Linked DNA regions of Homo sapiens: all the other regions are linked to region 1. The links come from fine-mapping of genetic effects on gene expression. A gene starts in region 1. Each other region holds a variant in brackets. All regions are shown on one strand. Distances are from middle to middle. Region 1 holds the start of LPL (lipoprotein lipase). Region 2 has its middle 61 kb from the start of LPL. Region 3 has its middle 110 kb from the start of SLC18A1. Region 4 overlaps LOC105379311 (a long non-coding RNA gene). Region 5 has its middle 110 kb from the start of LPL. Region 6 has its middle 36 kb from the start of LPL.

What was found. PIP is the estimated chance that this variant, and not a neighbour inherited with it, causes the effect.
Region 2: its variant is fine-mapped to the expression of LPL in whole blood (INTERVAL, PIP above 0.99). The same link has a PIP of 0.9 or more in blood mononuclear cells and monocytes.
Region 3: its variant is fine-mapped to the expression of LPL in whole blood (INTERVAL, PIP above 0.99).
Region 4: its variant is fine-mapped to the expression of LPL in lung (TOPMed, PIP above 0.99). The same link has a PIP of 0.9 or more in fibroblasts.
Region 5: its variant is fine-mapped to the expression of LPL in blood mononuclear cells (TOPMed, PIP above 0.99). The same link has a PIP of 0.9 or more in T cells and whole blood.
Region 6: its variant is fine-mapped to the expression of LPL in whole blood (TOPMed, PIP above 0.99). The same link has a PIP of 0.9 or more in blood mononuclear cells, macrophages, monocytes and monocytes after LPS.

The regions. Positions count from the first base shown.
Region 1 is chr8:19,937,591-19,941,680 of GRCh38, reverse strand. It overlaps LPL (lipoprotein lipase), which reads right to left and starts at 2,428. Exons shown (of 10, transcript NM_000237.3): 1 at 2,153-2,428. The coding sequence starts at 2,240.
Region 2 is chr8:19,876,428-19,880,517 of GRCh38, reverse strand. No RefSeq gene overlaps it. Among named protein-coding and RNA genes, the nearest start is that of LPL, 61 kb to the left of the region's middle. The variant A/G (reference allele first, on the strand shown) is at 2,405.
Region 3 is chr8:20,074,022-20,078,111 of GRCh38, reverse strand. No RefSeq gene overlaps it. Among named protein-coding and RNA genes, the nearest start is that of SLC18A1, 110 kb to the left of the region's middle. The variant G/C (reference allele first, on the strand shown) is at 2,534.
Region 4 is chr8:20,117,269-20,121,358 of GRCh38, reverse strand. It overlaps LOC105379311 (a long non-coding RNA gene), which reads right to left. Exons shown (of 4, transcript NR_188140.1): 2 at 2,581-3,724; 3 at 681-736. Among named protein-coding and RNA genes, the nearest start is that of SLC18A1, 64 kb to the left of the region's middle. The variant G/C (reference allele first, on the strand shown) is at 1,559.
Region 5 is chr8:20,045,835-20,049,924 of GRCh38, reverse strand. No RefSeq gene overlaps it. Among named protein-coding and RNA genes, the nearest start is that of LPL, 110 kb to the right of the region's middle. The variant G/C (reference allele first, on the strand shown) is at 1,532.
Region 6 is chr8:19,973,495-19,977,584 of GRCh38, reverse strand. No RefSeq gene overlaps it. Among named protein-coding and RNA genes, the nearest start is that of LPL, 36 kb to the right of the region's middle. RefSeq lists a silencer at 1,540-1,740. The variant A/T (reference allele first, on the strand shown) is at 1,904.

The DNA.
Region 1 (4,090 bases):
AGGCATGATATATTGGGTGAGTAGAGTGAAAGTGGAGGGGATGGGAGGGCATCGTTTCCAGTCTACTTGGAAATAATCCTTCCTTAATATATTTACAGCTAGGAAAAGCATGTGTTGGCTACAACTCAATTAAACTAATTAATCACATAAGTGTCCACTTAAAGAGGCAAGAGTTACACCAGGCTCAGAGAACATTGGCCTCATCCAAACTCATTGCAGAGTTGAGGAACCTAAACCCAGAGAGGTGACACTGACTCCCAAGAATTTAGGATCTTGAACCTGTAAGGGAGCCTAGGAAAAACTTGAATGTGATGACATATTTCGGTGCTTGTTTTGCAATGAAAATGACGTTATTCTATGGTGTGCTTTCTGAAATAAGAATTTGGAGTTGGCTCCTACCATCTTCTTGTCAGCATTAAGCAGTACGAAGGGAAACATACGAAACATACCCCACCTAAGATGTTGAAGACTTTCTCATCAACTCTCCAGTGTTTTCAAACTGATCCAATAGAAAAGATACTTTTTTTCTTATCCAATTTTGCTTTGATGGAATCTATACTTAGTGTTTGTTTTGTTTTGTTTTAATTTTATGAGACAGGGTCTCACTGTCACCCAGGATGAAGTGCAGTGGGGCAATCACAGCTCACTGCAGTCTACTGAAACTCCCTGGCTCAAGTGATCTCTCAGCCTGCTGACTATCTGGGACCACAGGCACAGGCCACCACGCCCGGCTAATTTTTGTATTTTTTTTTTATAGAGACGGTGTCTCCCTATGTTGCCCAGGCTGATTTCGAACTTCTGGGCTCAAGCTGTCTTCCGGCCTCGGCCTCCCGAAGTGCTGGGACTACATGGGTGAGCCACTGCTCCCTGCCAACTTTTTGTTTTTTAACCTAACAAAAATGTTTCACAAATTAATGCCAAAATAAAACAAACGTTTAGCGGCCATCAAAGCTATGGAGAGACTCTATTATAACTTGAACCGCTGGGGACGTGCCGCCTGAGAGCACATCCAAGCGACACCGCCCTAATTGCAATTCCAGCATGGAAGAAAAAAGGAAATGTTGTCCCGTGTTATGAATGGCTTCAGCTGCTCTCTATGCTGCTGTTGCATGTTTACTGAATCGAGGTTCGAATTAAGCAGGCTGCCTCCATTGCGGACAGGTCTGAGACATTCTCATTTGGCCCCGAACGCCTGGACCCCAGCGAGCGGGCGGTTCCCTGGCGGCGGTGACCACCGTTGTGCTCGCTGCCTCCACGCGGCGCCCGTCAACCCCACGTGCTCGCAGCCGCGCGGCGGGGCCGGGCGCCCGGAGCTGACCTCAGCCCCCAGGACAGAAAGGGTGGCCAAACGCAGACCTGGCAACCCCCCGAGTCGGCGACCACAGATTGCTGGTGGCTGCGCCACGGTTTCGGGAGGGTCAGCCCCTCGCTGGGTTCTCAGGGCACTAAGAAAAGAGGGGCATGCGAGCCTGGAAGCTGGAGAGAGTCCGGGGCTCCCCAGAGCGGGTGGGACGCCGCGTCCCCAGGACTCCGCGCCACGCGTACTTTCTCCACCCCGACACCCACTGCCACTCCCACAGCGGAGCGAGGGGCCCCGCCGAGGGCGAGCGTACCCCGTGCGGCTGAGATGCCCGGAACGCCTCCCCGCGCCCCGGCTTCCCCAGAAGGGGCCACAGTCGGCCCGCGAGTCCCCGGGCGGGGGCTGAGCCGCAGTGCCAACCAAGGCGAGGTCACCTTGGCCCGCGCGCCTTTCATTCCAGGGCCCCTCCGGCAGAGAGGTGACTGCAGGTCACCGCCAGCCGGGCCCTTACTCCCCGCCTCCGCCGTCCCGGCCCCCACACCCCGGAACCTCCCCGGCGGAGCCTGCGAGCCCGGGAACGCGGTCCCAGCCAGAGTGGAAGGGATAGCGCGGGAACCCGGCAGAGAGAAAAAGCGGGAACTGGGCGCCGCCGCTTCACGATCGGGAGGAGATTCCCTCCCGGCCCCTCCTGGATCCCACTCCGGGGACCGTTTCGGGGCTAGAGCCCAGGCTGGGAGAGTCCCTGGGCGCATCCACCGCCCCTTCCAACTTCCTTCTTCTCATCCTCAGTTCGGGTGGCAGTGGCCACCCGCCGGGTCTGCAGGTGGAGGGGAGTTTGCGCGCAAAACTTACGGTCGGCGGCGGCCACCCCTCCGCGGGAGGCGGTCAGACTCTGGAGCCACACGGCCAGAGTCAGCACGAGCAGGGCTTTGCTCTCCATCTCGGGGCGCGTCCCTCTGGAGGAGCTGCAAGGCGCGGACCGACTGATGAGCCGGCTGAGCCGGAGGCTGGAGAGGGCTGGAGCCGCGGTTTGGCGCTGAGCAAGTCGCCCTTTAAAGGGGATGGCAGGGCAGCTAGAAGTGGGCAGCTTTCCCTTGAGGAGGAGGAAGAGGGGGAATCGAGTCTGACACTGTTTTCACGCCAAGGCTGCTTATGTGACTGGAAATATGCAAATAAACCTCATCACCTATTGGCTATAAAATCATAAGTTGGGGGGAGGGACCTAAATTCACTTCTAAACGTTTGAGCAAACAGTAATGAGGATCAACCCTGCCAACGAGAAGAGGGGGAAAGGGCAGACGGAAAAATTTGCTTTGTTAGGCTCCTGTTCGCTTAGCTTAAGGGGTTCCACTCTACCCGGGGGCCCCCTGTCTAAGCACCAAACACAGGTTTACATCGATTCACGTTAAATACTCAACAATCACCTGTTTTCCAAGGAGGGAAAGTTTAGCTGTTAAATTACATTTGATCGGCACTTTAATACACCTCTCTTTTGACGAATCCTGTTTGTCACTTGCAGTCCTCCCTCACTCACCCCGCACCCCATCCCCACCCCCGCAAAGTCAATGTAGGGATAGAGGGACACACATTGCGTCCCAGCTTGTGCTTGTACAATCTGGTGTTTTAACATTGGCAAGATGGATCAGCTTATGTGATGGAGAAAAGCCTACTTGCTCTAACTAGTTTCTAATTTTTGTCTCATGCAAATTATTCTCAATCCTCAAACTCATCAAGGAATGCAAGGATAATATTTTATGTTCAGAGGCAGAACATCGAGGTCAAATAATCTAAAGCCGTATTGAGTTATGATAAGTGAAAGAAGATAGTCGCAAAAGACACATATTGTATGATTCCATTTAAAGTGTCCACAAATAGACAAATCCATAGAGACCAAAAGTAGATCAGTGCTTGCCTGGGGCTGGGTAATTAATAGGGGAAGGGAAGAATAGAGATTTGGGGGTAGTTGATGACAATGTTCTAGATTACATTATGCTGATGCTGCACAACTCTGTAAATATACTAAAAGCAACAGAATTATGCACTTTCAATGGGAGAATTATATAGTGTGTAAATTATAGGTCAGTAAAGCTATTTTTAAATGGATAAGAGGCATGCACATAAAATAAGAAAAAAATAACATTAGATACTATGCTTTTCTGCCAAAATGCTTGGAATACTTTTAAATATCTTTTTAAATATAAGGGATTTACATTAGCCAGGAAGGACAATGAAGTGTATCCCCAACCCCCTCTCAGTTTATGGCTGAGAAACTGGCTCATCAAATCAGAACCTCCAATCTACTATATTTATGGTCTGAATATTTTTAATGTCCCCTTTTATTCATCCCACCCTCCGTCACACACACACAAACATACAATGCACAATTGTAGGTTAGAACAATGAAATGCTTTTTAAAAAACTGGGCTCACTTTTTAAGTTTTTCTCAAAAAATGAAATAAAAGTTGATAATACCCAAATATTTCAAAGGTCTCTATTCTGCATAACAATTCTATCTTTAAGTTGATGCATTCCGTGCCACAACACAACACACCGTCTTGTATTGCAATTATTACACAATATACTGTGCACGTTCACTCTAACCTACAAAGTATGTAGAGAATCTTGAAACCTGCCAAAAATTAAACTTCGCAGAACTTTAGAAGTGGCAGAACAGACCATGCAAGGGATGAATAACTATGATATGGCCGTCCTCCAAAAATCATGTAGTAAACTCTAATTTTAAAAAATGACAGAAGATGAATACAATTGCATTGGATGTGTTCATGGTGT
Region 2 (4,090 bases), 61 kb after region 1:
TGATTTCCCGAGCAAGACTTTCCAGGTCACTGTGTTGTTCCTTGTGATAGACGGGTCTGGAAAATACTGAAAGAGAGAGGACCCTAGAACTGAAGAGAGAGGTGGAATAAAAATATGAAGAGCCTCAAAAGAGGAGAAAAGCAACTGAGAGAAAAAGTGACAAGTGGCAGGAGTAAAAAAGTCTGGCTGCATGGGTGGGGTCAGTAGGAAGTCCTCTAATGATTGGAATCAAGGATATTGAAAGATCCTGACCCCAAACTTTCTTCCAGTTGATATTACAAGTCTGGAACCATTAAAAAATGGACTCTGTTGAATCTCCTGACACCTTCCCACAGCCTCCATTTACTCCTAACTTCCCATTGGCAATGTCTCTTCCTCGTTATGAATGGCTCTCTTATGGTGAGGTTCTTTTCAACTGAACATTCCTGTCTTAGTATTGGCTGCTGTAACCCAATAGCATAACTTGATGGCTTACACAACAAGCATCTATTTATCACAGTTCTGGAGTCTAAGATCAAGATCAAGATGCCAGCAGATTCGGTGTCTGATGAGGGTCCGCTTCATGGCTTGTAGGTGACCAGCTTCTCTCTGTATTCTCATGTGGCAGAAAGAGGATGAGTGAGCTCTCTGGGGGTTCCTTTTATAACGGTGCTGATCCCATTCATGAGGGCTACACCCTCATGACCTAAGCACCTTTCAAAGGCCCCACCTCCTAATATCATACCTTGAGGGGGTTAGCATTTCAGCATTTAAATTCTATGGGGACACAAACATTCAGGTCATCGCAACTACTGAGAAATTTAATACCTGTCTTTATCCTCTTGGCAAATACATGTAAAAGATGCTTATTTGGGAAAGACAGAAGCATCTTTGGCATGTTGGCAAGGGTAGGGGTGGAGGAGAGAAGCTGCAGAGCTGAGATGAGAAACAGGGAAGAACCTTGAAGGCAGCAGGACATTTTCACTAAAGAGCGAACTGCAATGCATTTGCCTCAGTGCCAGGAACCCCAGAGAAGAAAAGATGATACTCAAGAAGTGTCTGCTTAGCAGAAGAATTAGAGGCAAAGCCGTGTGCTCCCTGTGTTGGTTCCTGCTCTGCTCTTCATGTGAGCATTCCAGATCCTGAGCCTTGAGGCCCTAGAATATTCACCACGAAACTTACAGTCGAAGCTCAAATGGTGCCAACACTGTAAATATAGCGTTCACATTCTCCTTCACTGTGAAGACAAATGAGGGTAATGAATCTAGGCGTTCTCTTCTCTCAGAATATTTGGCATTTGAAAGCACTTCACATTTCTATCATTTACTTGTGTGTGTAGACACCTACTTCCAAAACAAAAACACAGTTGGCCCTTGAACAACATGCAGGTTAGGGGTACCAATCCCCCACCTAGTCAAAAATCCATGTATAACTTTTGACTCCCCCAAAACTTAAATACTAACAGCCTACTGTTGACCAGAAGCCTTACCAATAACATGTTCTGTATGTTACACGTATTATATACTGTATTCTTCCAGTAAGTGAGCTAGAGAAAAGAAAACGTTATTAAGAAAATCTTAAGGAAGAGAAAAAGTATTCACTATTTGTTAAGTGAAAGTGGATCATCATAAAGGCCTTCACCATCACTGGAGTAGGCTGAGGAGGAGGAGGAAGAGGAGGGGTTGATCTTGCTGTCTCAGGTGTGGCAAAAGTGGAAGAAAATTCACCTATAGGTGGAACCACATGGTTCAAACCAGTGTGGCTCTAGGGTTAACTGTAATGATGACATATTAAAGCCATCACAAATTTTAAAGTAAGTCATCCGTTATTGTGCTTTATTAATAAACAAGAATCTCCTCTTCAATTGTCCTTCCCTCCTTCCATCTCTCTTTACCTCTTTTTCTTTCTTCTTTCCTTCTTTTCTTCTTCCTACCTTTCTTTCTTCCTTTTTTTTTGAGATGGAGTCTCACTCTGTCACCCGGGCTGGAGTGCGGTGGCCCGATCTTGGCTCACTGTAAGCTCCACCACCCAGGTTCACGCCATTCTCCTGCCTCAGCCTCCCAAGTAGCTTGGACTACAGGAGCCAGCCACCACACCTGGCTAATTTTTTGTATTTTTAGTAGAGATGGGGTTTCACTGTGTTAGCCAGGATGGTCTCGATCTCCTGACCTCGTGATCCACCCGCCTGGGCCTCCCAGAGTGCTGGGATTACAGGCATAAGCCACAGCGCCCAGCCTACCTTCCTTTCTTTGTTTCATCCCTCCTTCTCCCCTCCCTTCCTTTCATTCTTTCTTCCTTTGATTTAGTTGGAGTTCAGAGAAAATCCTAGTCTTGTCAAAATTAACTTTGATTCTTGATAGGATAATAAGTCTCCTCTAGAAAATAAAAGTTTACTAAGCAGAAACAACTTTGAAAGCAACTACCC[A/G]TTTTTCAATGCAATCTACTTTCTGTTTTAGAGAAGTTCTTTTTCAAAATTAAGTGTCCTGCTAACTAAGCTCTCAGGCTATTAGTTGAAGTGAATGAAATTCCAAAGATTTTACTTTGGCTTTTGTGTGGTTTATGCTTTCTAAATTTCCTTCACAAAGAATAGCCTGTAAAATTGTCTAGAAAGTGATCCCTTTGGGGAAATATTTACTCTTGAGTATTTTTATTCTAAAAACAAGAGCTTGATGTTTAATGAACAGTTTTGCTTAAGTGGAACCATAGAAACTCTTACAGGGCTGTGTTTATGTTCTCTGAGATTCGTTGAATTTTCTAGAAGAAGGAGGTCTTAGAGAAAAATCAGGATTATGGTATGTGATCAGTGCTATGCCCTATATTTCCTATAAAGCCAGTGTGCATTGCATGCCATTATTTTCTCTAACTGAACCACTTAATGTGTATTTCTATGTAGGGCCATGCAAACCTGCCTCTTCTCAGGTTACGTACTTAATTTTCTCAATTTTAGAAGCCAGCAAAGTGGAAGGAATAGGCATCTGGCATCAGACAGAACTGGATTGTCATCCAGTGTCTGCCATGACTGGCTATGTGACCTTGAGAAATATTTTGAAACTGGCTGAGACCCAGTTTCTGTCTATAAAATCAGGGTAATAAAATCCCTCAGGCTTCTTGGGAAGAGTAAGTGAGATAAATGCAGTCAATATTGAAAAAAGGAAGAATATAAAATATGAAGTGAGACGTACTATAAAATTAGAAGACCAAAAGAGAAGGAACTAACATTCTTAGATTCAAATAGCTCAGATGTTCTTAAGGAAGCTTGAGAAATTGTTTAATTATTATGCTTATTTCTCTTACAAGTTTTCAGAAATGAAAATGACAACAAAATTAGAAAACATCTCTAAAATCTTGAATTATGTTGGAATAGTCAAAAGCTTCAACCAGAATTTTAAAGAGTAGTCATTTGTTATTTATGGAATATCTTATTTTGGGTTCCCCTGAATGCAGAGCTTGAGGCAAGGGTTTGAGTACAAGTATGTTAGTTTGGAGGTGCGGTGGCAGAATTCTAAAGATTATCCTTCAAAATTTCCCATTCTAATTTCTGGAACAGTGAATATGGTTGAGATAGCATGATGGGGATTATGTTAACATTATATTGCCAAAGGGACTTTGCAGATGTGATTGAGTTGCTAATCAGCTGTCTTTGAGTTAATCAAAAAGGAGATTGTCTAGGTAGGCCTAATCTAAGAAATGAGCCCTTTAACAGCAGAAAGTTTTCTCCAGTTGATTGCAAAAGGGGAAGACAGATTCAAAACCCAGGAAGGAACTGACATGCCATGACAGGCTTTGGAAATGGAGGGAGACAGGCAGAAAGGAGCTGAGAATGACCCCCTGGCTGACAGTCAGGAAGCAGGCACCTCAGTCCCACCACTGCAAGAAACTGGATTCTGCTAACAAACTGAACAATCTTGGACGCAGATTCTTCCCCAAAGCCTCCAGAGAAGTGCCCAGCCTGGTGGAGACTTGATCTCAGCCTTGCACTATTCTAACCTGAGAACCCAGTCAATCCCAGTCAGACCTCTGACCTACAGAACAGGTAATGCATCTGATACAGGTAATAAATAGGTGGTAATCTGTAATGCAGCAATAAAACTCTGATACTGGAGGTGATCTC
Region 3 (4,090 bases), 140 kb before region 1:
GGTGTATGATCCAGCTTCCCACTGGCCTCTCGTCTATCTGCAGACCAACAGCTCTGATGCTGACATGTTGGTTTGCTGCAGGATGATTTAGACAGGAGAGTAACATCATCTGATCACTTTGGCCAAGTTTCACCAGATGGACTATGTTGTCTTCACTACCTGCCTTCTGTGTTCTCTTGTCAATGAAGGGTAAATCATCCTGGTTAACAAAACTATGCTCCTGGGTTTTTGGAATAATCATTACAAACAAGAACAATTTGTTGAGCTGTTTAAATGCATTATCTCATTTTATCATCCCAGAAAAAACTGATGTATATATTATTATTCCCATTTTGGAGATGAAAATATTGAGTCTCAGGCAGCTTAAGTAATTTGCTCAAAATTATATAACTCATTAGTAGAAGGAATGAGATTTGAAGCAGGACTATTTCATTCTAAAGCCTAGTCTTTAGTATGATGATGTATTGCTTCTGCAGAGTGTATTCTGAATCCTCTAGATAATTTCATATGGTGAAAATATTCAAGTCCTGGCCGGGTGCGGTGGCTCACACCTATAATCCCAGCAATTTGGGAGGCCGAAGTGGGCGGATCACCTGAGGTCAGCAGTTCAAGACCAGCCTAGCCAACATGGTGAAACCCCATCTTTACTAAAAATACAAAAATTAGCCGTGCCCGTAATCCCAGCTACTCGGGAGGCTGAGGCAGGAGAATCGCTTAAACCTGGGAATATATATATATATATATATATATATATATATATATATATATACTCAAGTTCTAACATCGTTATATTAACCAATTTGAGCAAATAATCTACAAACACCTGTTTTCAGATGGCAGAGAAGTGGCCTCTTTTCCATTCCCTCTCTATTCCCAGCAGGTCAGAGACTGACTTTGACCAGATCACAGTGAGGTAACTGTGTCCTTGCATAAAGAACTGACCCAGAAGCAAGCCATTTGAGAATAATTCAGTGGCACATTCTAGGCCAAGAGAAAATAACTCAAGATAAGAATATAACCCCCAAAGGGGAATAGATTTCTTGTTGGCAGAACTCTATATGCTTCCAGTTCTGCAGCAATAGCAGATTTCTCCAAGTTACTGAGTTCAGAGGATATATTTTGTTTAAACAACAACAAAGAAAGCTCAAGAGAGAGCTTGTTTTTTCTTTTGCAATAAGCTACATGTATTTTTTGAATGCCTGTTAAACATTCCGTTGTCTGGCATGGGGCTCTCCACATTTTCTTTCCCCTGTGGGGCTCTTACAACCCATCTCACTTCACCCACAGCCTTCCCTGAAATATGGCTCATTTCACTAGTAGGTCAGCAAATATGGCAAATTGGCAAATTGTCAACTCCAAATTGACCTTTCATTTCTCAATGCTGTTTGCTGGGCAACAAGCAAGGGGAATTAAAACTTCAGTCCTGGAGTCTCAAAAGGAATTGGAGCAAAAATCAAGATTGATAGCAAAGTGCTGAAACAGACATTTTATTTGGTGGAGCCATTTCAACCGAAGTGCAAAAGGCATCCTGGTAAGGAGATGAGCTTGTGTCTTTGAACAGCTTTTTCCCTTTCATACATCTGATATTTTTTTGAGTGCCTACCAATTTTCTAGACTTTATTTTTGGCTTAGGATCCAAAACATTATAATCACTGCCCTCCAGGAGCTTACATTCTGATGGGGGAGGACAAAACATAAACATAGGAAAAAGTAAATTAAATTGTGCATTAGACAGTGATGTGTTTGGGATAAAAAAAAAATAAATAGGGAAGGGTTTAGAAAATGCTAGGAGGTGAGCATTTTAAATAGTGTGTTGTCAGGGAAATCTTCACTGAGAACTTGATGTTTGAATAAAACCCAAAGGAGGGAAGGTAGCAAGCCAAGCTGATGTTCTGCAGGACAGTGTGCCAAGCAGAGAGAAGAGCCACTCACAAGGCCCTTGGGGACAGGTACTGGAGGAATGCAAAGGGGCCAGTGTGAGTGGAGTGGATGAGGCTAGCAAGAGGAGACAGATACTGCAGGGTCTTGTAGGCCATTGATAGGTCTCAGCACCCTGCTAAAACCATGACCACTGCGTCATGTGTAACCCTGACATTTGCAAAGCATTCATTTTCAGTGTTTGCTTATATCCTTGATCAAACTTGGTTCAACCCCGAGAGGAAGAGAAGCAGACCACTTCTCATTGTCTCCACTTTAGAGATAAACCAGACGCCAAGAATACTGAATAAATGACCAACTTCTCAGAGGGTGATTTGACCTCCCGTCTCTTAATTTCTAGACTGTTGCTTTTTCTACTGCATCTTCATTGTATTTCAGGCCATTTGTGCTTTGAAAATGGAGAGCTGATAAAAACGAGGAAGCTCAAGCCTTATCCTCAGCAATTATCTTGGATCATTTTGATTCAAGGGCTCTCTCATTTCTTGGTTTATTTATCTCACTATCCACAGCTACAAAGCAATGGTGCAGGGTACACACAGCCCAGCTCTACTGGGCACCATTCGTACAGACTGCAGTGTGAATTGTGCCCCTTGGT[G/C]TTGAGCCAAGTGCAGGCACTGCTGTGGTGTACTGTCTTTCCTCATCTTGACTTTGTCTCTTATTTCTAGCCTCACATTTGAATTCTCTGTAGCAGAATTTCATCTTCCCAGTTTTGAGTTTTGGCAGTCCCTAGATAGAACATGGTTTGCACCCACACTTTCGCAAATAATTGACCTAGACCCAACCCAGTCTTGAGACATCTTCTGGCATTAACTGCCTAGAAGGTATCTCAGTTGTTCCTGTTCCCTCCTGTCCCTCATGCCTAACAAGATTTGGGACAGTTTTGAAACCACTTTTGCAAAAATTTTAAAAATGTGAAAATTATGACAGTAAAAGAGATCTGATCTAACCAATCTCCATCTTGCCTTTAACTTCCAGACTGTCCTTGGCCATTCCTAGGCTTGGGTCTAGCTAACTTTGGGAGAAATTTAGTTTATCATTTAAATGATAACAGCCCTTCCCCAAAAGTAAACCATCTTTCTAAAACTAATGAAAGACTACCAGGTTAGGAGGATGAGAGGAGGCTGAATTCTGCTAAGATGTAGGCAGAATAAACTATTACCTATAAACAAGGTAATGAACCATTACCGGCCATTATTCCAGAGGTCACAAGATTTGCAAATTCTCCGATTACTCCTGTAGATAACATCGCTATTGTGGAACCTAACAAGATTGGCCTTTTGAGATGTCCTTTCAGATTTTTGCATTTCTAACTACCAGATGGCCCACCCGGACCCAGGACTCTGCTCCTGTGGCTCCTACCCAGAAGGGACTCTGTACAAGGACCACTTTCCACACCGCTGTGATTGCATCCAATCAAGCAGTACCCATTCCCTCAGCCCCCCGCCCACCAAACTATTCTTAAAAAACCCTAGCCTCTGAATTCTCAGGGAGATTGATTTGGGTAATAACTTCATCTCCCACATGGCATGGCTGGTCTTGTGTCAATTAAACTTCCTTATTGCAGTGTCACGGTTGCAATGAATTGGTTTTGTCTGGACAGTGGGCAGGAAAAACCCATGGAGCAATTACAGTTTCCTTCTATATCTAACTATCCACCCTTGAGGAAATCAGCTCATAATCTTAGGTAGTTGGTATTTATCTCTGATTCTTGTGTTTATATATTTCAAATCCTCCCAAACCTTGGGCTGCAAGTTTTTTCTGTATGCTGTCTTTGTGGGGTCTTTGGCAGTTTTTTCACAAATGACTAAGCTTGAGCCAATTTGATGAATGGAGTCTTTAGAAACGGATTCTCGTTTGACACACAGATCTGCTAAGCTAATAAACTTTGTTATGAGCTGAGCAAATTTCCTCTTCTGGAATCTTCCCTGTGGTGACCGGCCTGTGCTGGGGAGGAAATCAGCTGCTTTCTCAAGGGCCTTTGTGTCCCCAGCCCCTGCTGCAAGTTACAGAGGGGTGACCTCTACCATGTACTTTCCCACGCCCCACCTCCTGACTCTGGGGTGTGCGAGTGAGTGTGAGAATCCTTGAAGTTACATAACAGAGAGCTCAGGCAACAGACTGCTTCTGCTTCCTCCATCACCAGGAGAGCTTA
Region 4 (4,090 bases), 180 kb before region 1:
AGGCATAAGCCATCATGCCTAGCCAGTTTTATTATTATTATTTATTATTTATTTATGTTTTTTGAGACAGAGTTTCACTCTTGTTGCCTAGCCTGGAATGCAATGGCGGGATCTCGACTCACTGCAACCTCTGCCTCCTGGGTTCAAGCAATTCTCTTGCCTCAGCCTCCCCAGTAGGTGGGATTACAGGCATGTGTCACCACGCCCGGCTAATTTTGTATTTTCAGTAGAGATAGGGTTTCTTTATGTTGGACAGGCTGGTCTCGAACGCCTGACCTTAGGAGATCCACCTGCCTCAGCCTCCCAAAGTGCTGGGATTACAGGCATGAGCCACTGCACCCAGCCCAGTTTTATTATTTTTAGAATGGTGAGTGTTGAATGCTTTGTGGACTGAGGAGAAGCAAACAATAAACAGGGTGAGATTGAATACAGGTAAACATATTTACAATTTAAACACCCAAGAGAGTGATTTTGGTCTGAGTTCCAGGCACTGCTGGTGAGCTCCTGAGGGTTACTTTCCAGGTGGCAGCACCCCTGAAATCCCCCAGGTGGGCCACCCCCTCCTTCCCCCTGCCTGAACAGACAACTGGGTTCTGTCATGCCTTAGAGGAGGGGGTCGTGTGAGGCTTTGATTTCTGGGAAAGCCTACAAGGAGAAGTCAGACAGACCTGTATACCAACCTCAGTCCTGCAAATAGTCACTGTAGGCAAGATGACCTCTGAGCCTCAGGTTTCCCCTGGAGAAAATGAGGGTAATACAATCTATTATCTATTTTGCCATGAGGCTGGATGACATACGTATGTAAAGGCCTCCCTGCAATGCTGCCTCTGAAGTAAAGGCCTCCCTGCAATGCTGCCTCTGATGTGGCAAGCAAATTCAAGAGTCCTTATTTTCACACTCATGCCCAAGAGGAGATTCCTGACCAGGAGAGTTCTTTCTTTCCAGAGGTTATGGGCAGCCCTGCATGTGTTTGCTTGGTTTTTTGTTGTTGTTGTTGTTGTTGCTGTTGTTTGTTTGTTTGAGACAGAGTTTTGCTGTTGTCGCCCAGGCTGGAGTGCAGTGGTGTGATCTCAGCTTACTGCAACCTCTGCCTCCCAGGTTCAAGTGATTCTCTTGCCTCAGCCTCTCGAGTAGCTGGGATTACAGGCACCAGCTACCACGCCCGGCTATTTTTTGTAGTTTTAGTAAAGACGGGGTTTCACCATGTGGGTCAGGCTGGTTTCGAACTCCTGACCTCAGGTGATCTGCCCGCCTTGGCCTCCCAAAGTGCTGGGATTACAGGCGTGAGCCACTGCTCCTGGCACTTGTTTTTGTGTTTCTGTGTGTCTGTGGCTGTCCGCTGTGCTCATCAATATCTGGGCTCCTCCCAGCTGGGACAGGGAGCCTCTGTTTACTGCCCTTTGCCTGATGTTTACTACAATGTTGGACAGTTTGAGCTCTCAAACACCCAGCAGATGAACTCCCTCATTCAACAGATTTAGGAGGGAGCTGGGGAGACCAGACACAATAAAAACAGCATATTTCCCCCTAGAAGATTCCTGGCCAGCCTTCTTTCTTA[G/C]AAAGCCCTCCCTGGTGAGTCAGTGCATTGGCCCGCCCTGACCTCCCAGAAGATTGGACAGAAGATTATCTTGGCACAGGCACGGCAGACAATTTCTCTGCCTGCACAGATTTCCTGGTACCCAGCAATATTTGGCTAACCTGAACTTTTATTTTTCTAACTGAAACACCATACTGTTGATTTTAGGAACATTGCTTTTACCTTCTCTAAGAGGACAAGGTCTCTAAATCTTTCCCTATTGAAGAATTTGATTTTGGTTCATCCAGGTCATTGTGGCTAGGGCTAAGGGTGTAGCGAGGTCTGAGCTTCCAAAATGCTGGTTATGCAGGGAGCAGATGGGGAGGGAGATGAGTTAGCAGGGCTCTCTCCTGCTCTGAGAGTCATCTCTGAGCCCCCCAACCCCCATAGCACCTGGCCAGTGGCTTGGACAGAGAAGGTGCTCAGAAAATGTTGGATAAGCAAGTGAATACGTGGGGATATGAATGGATAGATTTGACTTGTTTACTCAAGAGGCAAAGAAGAACATGAAGGAGCAATGGAAATGGGCTTGGAAGGAGTGATACTGGTAGGTCACCATGTTGAGGACAGGACAGGGTGAATACTGGCTGGCATGTGTGTTTCGGTGTTGTTGTATTAGTCCATTCTTGCACTGTTATAAAGAAATACCTGAGACTGGGTAATTTATAAATAAAAGAGGTTGAATTGGCTTACTCTATTGTAGGCTATACAGGAAGCATGGCTGGGGAGGCCTCAGGAAACTTACAATCATGGTGGAAGGTGAAGGGGAAGCAGGCACGTCTTACATGGCCAGAGCAGGGGGAAGAGAGAGAAGGGGGAGGTGCTACACCCTTTTAAACAACCGGATCTCATGAGAACTCACTCACTATCATGAGAACAGGAAAGGGGAAATCTGCCCCCCTGATCCAATCATCTCCCACCAGGGCCCTTCTCCAACTTTGGAGATTACGATTCGACATGAGATTTAGGTGGGGACACAAATCCAAACCATAACAAGTGTATACCTAAAGCTCAGTAGTCTTGAAGCTGGCACATCTAGCCTTGTGAAATTCCACATGCCTGTATCACTCTCACTCCGTGCCCATTGATAGGATATAGGAAAAGTGGATTTTAAAATATTGAGAAAACAATTCCTAGAGAGAGTTCTTGCAGGGCCTATCTCTGCTTGAAGGGGCCAAGTGAGGAATGAGCCCAACACAATCACCGATCAGGCTTGCTCAGGTGGGGCGTGTAAACCCAGCTTTCCAGACTTGGTGTTGAGAACCAAGGCGTCCTGCTGATATTTTCTGTGAATCTATTGAATTGGCCATGGCGGAGGTTAAATAGAGCAAGTATAGTGTTAAAGGAAAAGGCTGTTGTGATTCAGTTCTGGGTTGTGGCTTGTTTTTTTGAGCCACTTCTGGGCTCAGCTTCATAGGTTGGGCTGCATACTTGGTGGCTGGATCAGTGGCGGTCACGGGGAAGCTGTGTCACTCAGCCAAGGACATTGGCTGTGGGTGATCTGTAGCAGGTGGCAGCAACCTGGTTTCAGAGCTTAAGATGATCCTTCAAACTGTCCCCAGCAAGTTCGCTGCACTCCCAGCACCATTAGATAAGGCAGTGTCCTTGATTTCAGGGAACTCACCTCTGATTGTATTCTTCTATAGCCTGGAGTAATTGAGACTTTTCAAAGCAGCCTGGAAAAACCTTACATCCTGGAGGAAAGAACAGGGCCCACTTTCTCTCCTCTTTCCTCCTAGAGTCTTAGGAATATTTAACCTTCAAGTAGGTAGAGATATTACTGGGGCCTCTTCACTCTGACTTTCTCAGCTGCCGATTCATTCTCTTGGTGCAGAAATTCGTTTTTACTATTATGGGTTGCTTTAGTACTAACACATAGCAACTTGCTTTGAGTATGGAAAAATATGCCAATAAATGCATGCAGACATGTCTGAGCACGTAGGGAAAATGTCGGTAGACCCAAAGGCTTTTATCATCACGAGCCATTGGGTCTTGAGGATCCTGAGTTCTCTTCTCCAGAGCCATTACTGAAGTATACTGAATCTCCAGGACAGAAGCTCCATGAGCCTCAATAAGAAAGATCAGGAACTCCCTTTCTTCCCCAGCAATTTGGGGGAGCAGCAGCTTCTCCCATTCAAGAGGCATTTCCTGGAGAGAGGTAGATTGATGGAAAACAGTCAAGTATACACATAAATATGAAACACATTTAGAGCATTTGACCCAATGTCTAGTTCTAGTTCTACAGCAGGGAGAGTAAAGAATTTAGTCAGCCCTCACTGTGGGAGAAGCCCTCATTGATCTAATCAGGGAAAATGGGAGGAGGCCCATTTGTAAGAGACACTAAAGGAGAAGATTAGGAAGTCATCAGGAGGGGTTTCAGTGGACTACGCCTTGGCCTCTGTATAATGAAACCAGTATCCTTAGAGCTTCAGGAGTGAAACTCCCCACAGTTGCAATAGAATAACTTATATTAAGTCCTGCTTTACAGTAAATAACACCTGAGTGAGATTCCAG
Region 5 (4,090 bases), 110 kb before region 1:
TTTTTGGGTCTGTTGGCTATTTTATTAAATGTCTTTGGTTTTGTTGCATAACAGGCTCATTTTGAAGGGGGATTTTTTTTTAAATCTCTCTCTTGCTTCACATGCACCCTTGGCTTATCTTTTTCTGACCAATTGTATGGTGGTCTCCATCTGGCCCTGCAGACTTCCAACTAAGAAGCAGAGTCTAAATTGTAGTTTGAAGTTCATTCTTACCCTAGACTAATACTGGGGGTACCAAAGAGAGTGTCACAGAACAAATCCTGTAACCACCCAATGGGTTCACCTTGCCCACTGGCTAGACAGAGCTGATTTATCAAGACAGGGGAATTGCAATAGAGAAAGAGTAATTCACACAGAGCCGGCTGTGTGGGAGACTGGAGTTTTATTATTACTCATATCAGTCTCCCCACACATTCGAAGAACAGAGTTTTTAAGGATAAATTTCTGGGGTATTGTTGGGAGTAAATTCTATTTTAAATTCTGAGTAAATGTTACGCTATCATTCCACCAGCAATCACCTAAGGCAAGTTAAGAAGCACTGGTGAAACTTAATAGCCACATACAATCGAAGTGTGAATGAAATGAATAAATATACAAATAAACTATGTAGCCATACCTACACATACATCATGCACTCGTTCTGTTACTGAAATGCCAGGGTTTCAGTCTAGGTTCTGTTACTTGCTGCACAGAAAGCCAATCACTGTGGCAATGAGTATTGCCAGGGAAGGAGGCTTTAATATGCTGCGGTCAAGGAGATGGGAGATCAGTCTCAAATTCTTCTCTCGGACCCACTAAAATCAATGTTTTATATAGCAGGGAAGGAATGTAATGATATGCAGGAAAACAGGAATGGGGGTGGGGCGGGTGGTAAGGAAGAGGAATTGGTCAATAGGAAGCAGGTGGTCAGGCAGTCGTGGTGGGTGAAGGGTCTGGCTTCTCATTGTCCAGATGTGATAATCTGGTAAGTTTCAGTTCCCTGATACTATCTGGGAGTCCTGATGGTTAGTTTCCTGAGAAAGGAACTCAGATAAGTGTAACTTTCTCAAGTTTTAAGACTGGGAGGGTCAATTTCTATGTTTATTCAAAAGAAACCATAAGCATCAGTTCTATGGGATAATTGAAGTGGTTTCCTTTCCACATTAACGTGTGTGTATGCATGTATGTGTGAACATCTCACAGTAACAGCTCACTGTAGCCTCAGCCTCCTGGGCTCAAGGCAGTGATTGCTTGAGGCTAAGAGTTCGAGACCAGCTTGGGCAACACAGTGAAACCCCATATCTTTAAAACAAAACAAAACAAAACAAAACAAAACAAAACAAAACATTAGCCGGAGGCTGGTGTGGTGGTGTGCTCCTGTAGTCACAGCTACTCAGGAAGCTGAGGAAGGAGGATCACTTGAGCCCACGGACTTAAGTTTGCAGTATGCTAGGATTGTGCTACTGCACTCCAGTCTGGGTGACAGAGCAAGCCCCCGTCTCCAAAATTTAAAATACAATATAAAAAAATGTTCATATCTGATGCACCCTGG[G/C]AAATTTGCAACATTCTTGAGGTAAGGTAAATGTTATCTCTGTTTAGTAAATGAAGAAACTAAAGGTAGAAGGTGCTTTGCAAAGCTCTTTTACAAGTGAACCTGTAGTAATCTGGTTTGAACCCAATGAACGTCTCATTGAGGCTGAAATAATAAATTTTGACATTTCTATTTCCATTCTGAGTTTATAAGTTCTTGTTACTAGGATGAAGGCTTTTTTTTTTTTTCCATTTTCGACTCCTTTTGTGAAATAAGGATAAACTAAATATGCATACAGTCAGTCATAGCAGGGAAACACTATGATAATCCAAATTGAAACACATCAGATAATCCAAATTGAAGGAATGTTTTACAAAATAACTGGCCAGGACTCCTCAAGTGTCAAAGTCATTAAAGAAAAGGAAAGACTAAGAATTGTCATAGAGGAGATGAAAGAGACACGGCAACTAGATAGGATGTGAAATCTTGGATTGGATCATAAACCAGAAAAAGCACATTGGTGGGGAAACTAGTGAAACTCAATGTCTGTAGGTTAGTTAATAGTATTGTATTAGTGTTAATTTCCTGGTTTTGATAATGGTACTGTGGTTATAGATGATGTTAACATTAGGGAAAACTATGTGAAGGGTAATTGGAAACTTTCTGTACTATTTTTGCAAATTTTCTGTAAATTTAAAATTATTTAAAACAAAAAATTAAAAGAAAACAAAAATACATTAGGTAAAATGGAAAGCAAACTTTCTTGCCTCATCCCTGAAGCCTTATTCTACCCCTTCACTTTGGGTTAGGCTGAGGCTGAAGTGTAGGAGGAGGAGTGGGTGGTTGTCAGACACAGAATAGAGGGTTATTGCATAGATTACTCACTAGTTGTTTAAATTGTGCTTTTATATGTCAATGAGGCCATTTTATATAGTGTATGCAATTGTAGTCAAAATAGCCCAAGTGGCCAAAGTAGAGATATCAACTTGGTCTCATCAAAATGTTGCATTTTAGACTCCAACTGTGTGTTTTTAAAAAAATATCACAAGGAACACTCAAAAATGTTCAAAGCGGTTATGTCTTGCTCAGACAATTGTGGGAGAATTTTAAAAAATCTTTATGTTTTCAGTAATTTTCAATTAAATCACAATTAGTATATTTCACATATATAGTGAAATTCAAATAATTTTTTTTAAATTTAACACAATTAGACATATGCCATATGATCATGGTGACAGACTGAATGTGCCAATGTTTATCCCATCCAATATGCTCTTCTTATAACGTGACAGTGGAATTTCTCCATCAGGAAGTCTATGTTACGTCCTCTTGAACATGGGCAAAACTGTCACTGTCTCAATCGGTAAAATACAGAGCATTGACACTGTATGACTCCTGAGAATAGATGATAAAAAGTACAGCTTTATCCTGGCTCTCTTTCCTTAAGAACACTTGCCTATGGGATCCAGCTATCACATTGTGAGCAAATCCAGGCCACATGCAGAAGTCATGTGTGGGTGTCCAGCCGGCAGCCCCAGGTAGGCCCAAATGAAAGAGCAGAAGTATTCAGATGATTTCAGCTCCCAATCTTCAAATATTTCAGCTAAGGCACAGATGAACTGAGATAAGCTGTCATTTCTCTACCCCATCTGAATTCCTTTTGCAAAGAAATCATTAAAATAAGTGATTGTTGTTGTTTTAAGCCACAACATCTTGGAGTAATTTGTTATTCACAGTACTTAATAAAAATATTAAAAACAAAATTATCAAAGTATCCAGCAATTCTACTTCTGTGTCTGTACCCCAAACAAGTAAAAGCAGGAATGTGAAGAGACATTTGTACACCCATTTTTGTGGCAGCATTGTTCACAAGAGCTAAAACATGGAAGCAACCCAGGTGTCCATGAATGGATGGGCAGAGAGTGGGATGTGCATACAGTGGAATATTGTTCAGTCTTTAAAAGGAAGGACATTCACACATATGATAAAACATGGATGAATCTTGAGAACATTATGCTGAGTGAAACAAGACAGTCACAGAGACAAATACTGTATGAAATACTTAGAGTGGTCAAAATCATGGAGATAGAAAATAGAATGGTGGTTGCCAGGAGCTGGTGGGAGGGGGAGAATCAGGAGTTATTGTTTAATGTGTATAGATTTTCAGTTTTACAAGATGAAAGGAGTTCTGGAGATGAATAGTGGTGAGATATGGAACATTTCCGTCATCTGAAAAAATTCCCTCTTGCCATTTTGTAGCTAATACCCTTCCCCCAAACTCCAGCCCTTCATAATCAAGGATAGTATCTCTGTCCTCAATGATTTTTCTTTTCTCAGATGTCATATAAGTGAAACCATACACTATATACCTGCTGTGTCTGGCTTCTTTCACTTATCGTAATGCTGGTGAGAATCATCCATGTTGCTGCATGTACCATACTTTGTCCCTTTTGATTGTTGACTTGTATTCTATTGTCTGTGCCACAGTTTATGTATATATTCCTCACTTGATGGACATATAGTTTCAATTTTTGATACTTTTTAATAAAAGTGCTATGAATATTCACATATACGTATGCT
Region 6 (4,090 bases), 36 kb before region 1:
AAAGACAGTTATACCTCTTCCTTTCCAATATGGATGCCTTTTATTTTTTTATCTTGTCTTGTTGCACCGAATGGAACCTCCAGTATAGTATTGAATAGGTCTGGTAAGGCAACTATCTTAGCTTTTTTCCTGATCTTAGGAAAATAATTTAATCTTTTACCATTAAATATAGTTTTATATGTAGGTTTTTTGTGGATGGCCTTCATCAGGTTGAGGACATATCCTTCTATTCCTAATTTTCTGAGAGTTTTTTTTATCATGAATAAATATCAAATTTTGACAAATCCATCTTTATCTTCATTTTTTATGGTTGCAAAATAATCATAACTGACATATATGTGTTGTTCACTAATTTGCTATTACAAGCAAAATTGTAATGACTGAGACTATGGTAATATCCTTTTGCAGATGTGTATCTTCAAGGTAAATTCCCAAGAGCAGAACCATTAGAAAAGGATATGTATTTATAATTTTGAAAGGTATTACCAATTGTCTTCTACAAGGATTGCACCAATATACATTACTATCTGCAATGTAAGACTTATTTTCCTTTAGAGTTGCAAACAAGGTGTATTTTTAAACTTTGAGATTTTCTGAATCTAAATTGGTAAAAAGTGGCATTTTCATGTATTATTAAATTCTATCTCTTATTATGCATGACAATGACTACCTTTCATATGTTTAAGGACCACTTTATGTTTAGATTTGTGTTCCATCTTTTGCTCTTTTTTCCTTTGTGTGTGTGTGTGTGTGTGTGTGTGTGATTTTATTGATTTTTAGAAACTCACAATTACTATTTTTTGAGACAGAGTTTTTGCTCCTGTTGCGTAGGCTGGAGTGCAATGGCGTGATCTTGACTCACCACAACCTCCGCCTCCTGGGTTCAAGGGATTCTCTTCCCTCAGCCTCCCGAGTAGCTAGGATTACAGGCATTCACCACCACGCCCAGCTAATTTTGTATTTTTAGTAGAGATGGGGTTTCTTCACATTGGTCAGGCTGGTCTCGAACTCTCGACTTCAGGTGATCTGCCCGCCTCGGCCTCCCAAAGTGCTGGGATTACAGGCGTGAGCTACCGCGTTCAGCCAAAACTTACTTTTTACTTTTTATATATCAATTTTGGGGGGATCAATTTGTTATCTTTTGACTTTGCTTATATTTCAGCTTATCTTAAATGGGTTACATTTTCTTCCATTAATTTTTCTGCTGAGCTTTTAGGCATGTGACTTAGGAGAAAATGTGAGAAACACTATAGTTACGTCAATTATTTTGACAAATCACTTTTTGGAAAGATATTCACACGTGGTGAGCCTTCTAAAAATGGTGTGCTGATTTCTGTTACTTTTTTTCATAGAAATTATACAATATAACTTGAGCATTTCTTCTTTTACTGGTGTGAATAAAATGTACCACCCTCACTTCCTCACACCCTACATCCTACCCTTTAATGAACCAGTAAACATCAAGGAGCAGCGTGATGCTGTTTGTTGTACATGAAGTTAAAATGTGCCCTTGGACTTGAGGTCACCTTGAAATAATGAGTGACCTGGTCTCAGAAGGCTCCATACCTCTGAAGGGACACTTATCATTGTCATCTTAGTCAAATCACATGTGGCGGCAGAGGAATCTTACGGCCTCATTTAACAACCCAGGCTCACCTCTGACCTGGGGACATCTAAAAGCCTAATTTTCTAGCCCTTACATCGTTATCAAAATGCTGAGTTCACAGTGTTACTCAGGCACATCAACGAGCTCTTTATTTAACTAGCACTGTCATTGCCCTCAATGTGTGACACAAACTCACATGATTTTGGCCCATACAATGGAAAAATAAGGTTGGTTTTTACTTTAAAATCAATATTAAGTTATTAAAATGATAGCATATCAAGACATGAGTATCTTCCT[A/T]CCTTCTTTCTAACTTCTGTTTTCTGTTGCTTTTTTTAAAAAAACCTGACTCAAAATCACCCGCTCTTTCCTAATGATCTATTTTGGTCAATATCTCAGTTCCTTTTTGTCTCCTGGTTGTTTTCTCCTTCTTAGGACATATAGGAAAATCTCTTTCTAGAACAAATTGTGTTCCTTTTCGTTACATCCTTGAGAAACTCAGTTTAATGAATCAAAGAAGGTATTTTTAGAGCATCCTACATGTTCTGTTCCCAGGAAGAATGAGTGTACTGGTCAATTTTGATTACACCCTCTGCTTGTAGAAACCTACAGAAGTGGAGACATGGAGAGAAAAATGAGAAGTTTCATTCATTTATGCTGCTTGTTGGAGTTTAAAAGTACTTATTCATGACAGTCTTTATTCATTTATGTATGCATTTGTTCAACAAATTATTAAATACACTTATTTTTATACTTTGAATTTTTAAAAGAAAAGTAGATGGATAATATAATCGTTATTGCCAAAGGAACTGAGAAGGCAAGACAAACAGTGATGCAAATCAATTTCTGGGCAACAGAATGCTGGGGGAAATGTAGGGCCAAAATAATATTGCAACAGCATTTTTCTAGCTTCTTCGTCCCCCTTCTTTATATCCAGGTATCTTCAGCATCTTTAAATCATTCATAACAAACTTGGGTGAGAAACAGAGCAGTGAGTAAAGTCAGGGTTAGCATGTACAGTATAGTGCCTGTGCATGAATTACCAAAATTTGCCCACTCTGGGCAGATGAATTACAAAAAGACAAGTGTATGAAGACCTTTGTCACTCCTAGCTTTTTTTTTTTTTTTTTTTTTTTTTTTTTTTTGAGACGGAGTTTCGCTCTGTCGCCCAGGCTGGAGTGCAGTGGCGCGATCTCGACTCACTGCAAGCTCCGCCTCCCGGGTTCACGCCATTCTCCTGCCTCAGCCTCCCGTGTAGCTGGGACTACAGGCGCGCGCCACCATGCCCGGCTAATTTTTGTATTTTTAGTAGAGACGGGGTTTCACCGTGTTAGCCAGGATGGTCTCGATCTCCTGACCTCGTGATCCGCCCGTCTCGGCCTCCCAAAGTGCTGGGATTACAGGCGTGAGCCACCGCGCCCGGCCCACTCCTAGCTTTTCTATATACTCCCATAAGTCTGCTCAAATATGCCACAGGCTGCATGACACTAGCACCTTGCAAAATTGCCCGCACATCGTAGGTACTTGATAAAAATTTGCATTGACCTTACATTTTCCTTCCTTTTTCCATCCGGCTGTTACTAATATCACTTGTCACAACCCACCACAAACGAGTTGCCGAAGCACAGGGGGTGTCAAGGTTCCCTGACCTGTGGAGTCCGCACTGAAGTCAGTGCAGCTCACAAAAGCCACCATAGACCCCAGCACATTAGAAGCTTGCTGGGAAAATGTTGGACCACCATGCCCCACACCATGGATGCCAAATCTAGCAATTCACAGATTATCATAGTTGCTTCTCCCTAAACCTCAGGCAACTCCCATAGGCTGGGCTGCCAGACAATAGAAACAGACACATGGTGGAAGTCAAAGTTGCCTCTCCTCTCTGTCTTGGGCCTCCATCCTTGAGTCACTTTTATGTGTTTTGCTTCTCTTTTCTCTTGGGAAAAATTTTTTCTGCCAATGTATTTCTGGTGCACCATCTCCAAGTGCCCCAGATATGTTCAAACAGGCTTAAAACTCAAAGGGGGGAAAAATCAACAACTCCAACTTTGAAGTCACACATTGGTTTAAAAGCCAACTCACCCACTTACTAGCTTTGATTTCTAAATTAATTCATTTCCCTGCATCTCGTTATATTCATCAATAAAGAGAAGATAAAAATACCTATTTCAGGAGGCTATTGTGAGAATGAAACAAATGTTAACCAAGCACTTCACACAGTGCCTGGCACATAGTTGATGCAGAAAAACTGGTAGTAATTATTTTTAGTAACACAACATCGGAGCAAGTACATGCAACACTTGTGCTGACAGGTAGATCGTAGTGGTAACATAGCAATGGAAGAAAAAAAGATTTCAGAAGGGAGCTCAGAAGAGTGAAAGTAGTCATTAAAGGTACTTAGAAAATAGGGTGGTCATTATAGGCAGAGAGGGACATTTGAGCAAAAATATAGAGACTACAGAAAAAAACTTTGTTTAGGGAAAGAGT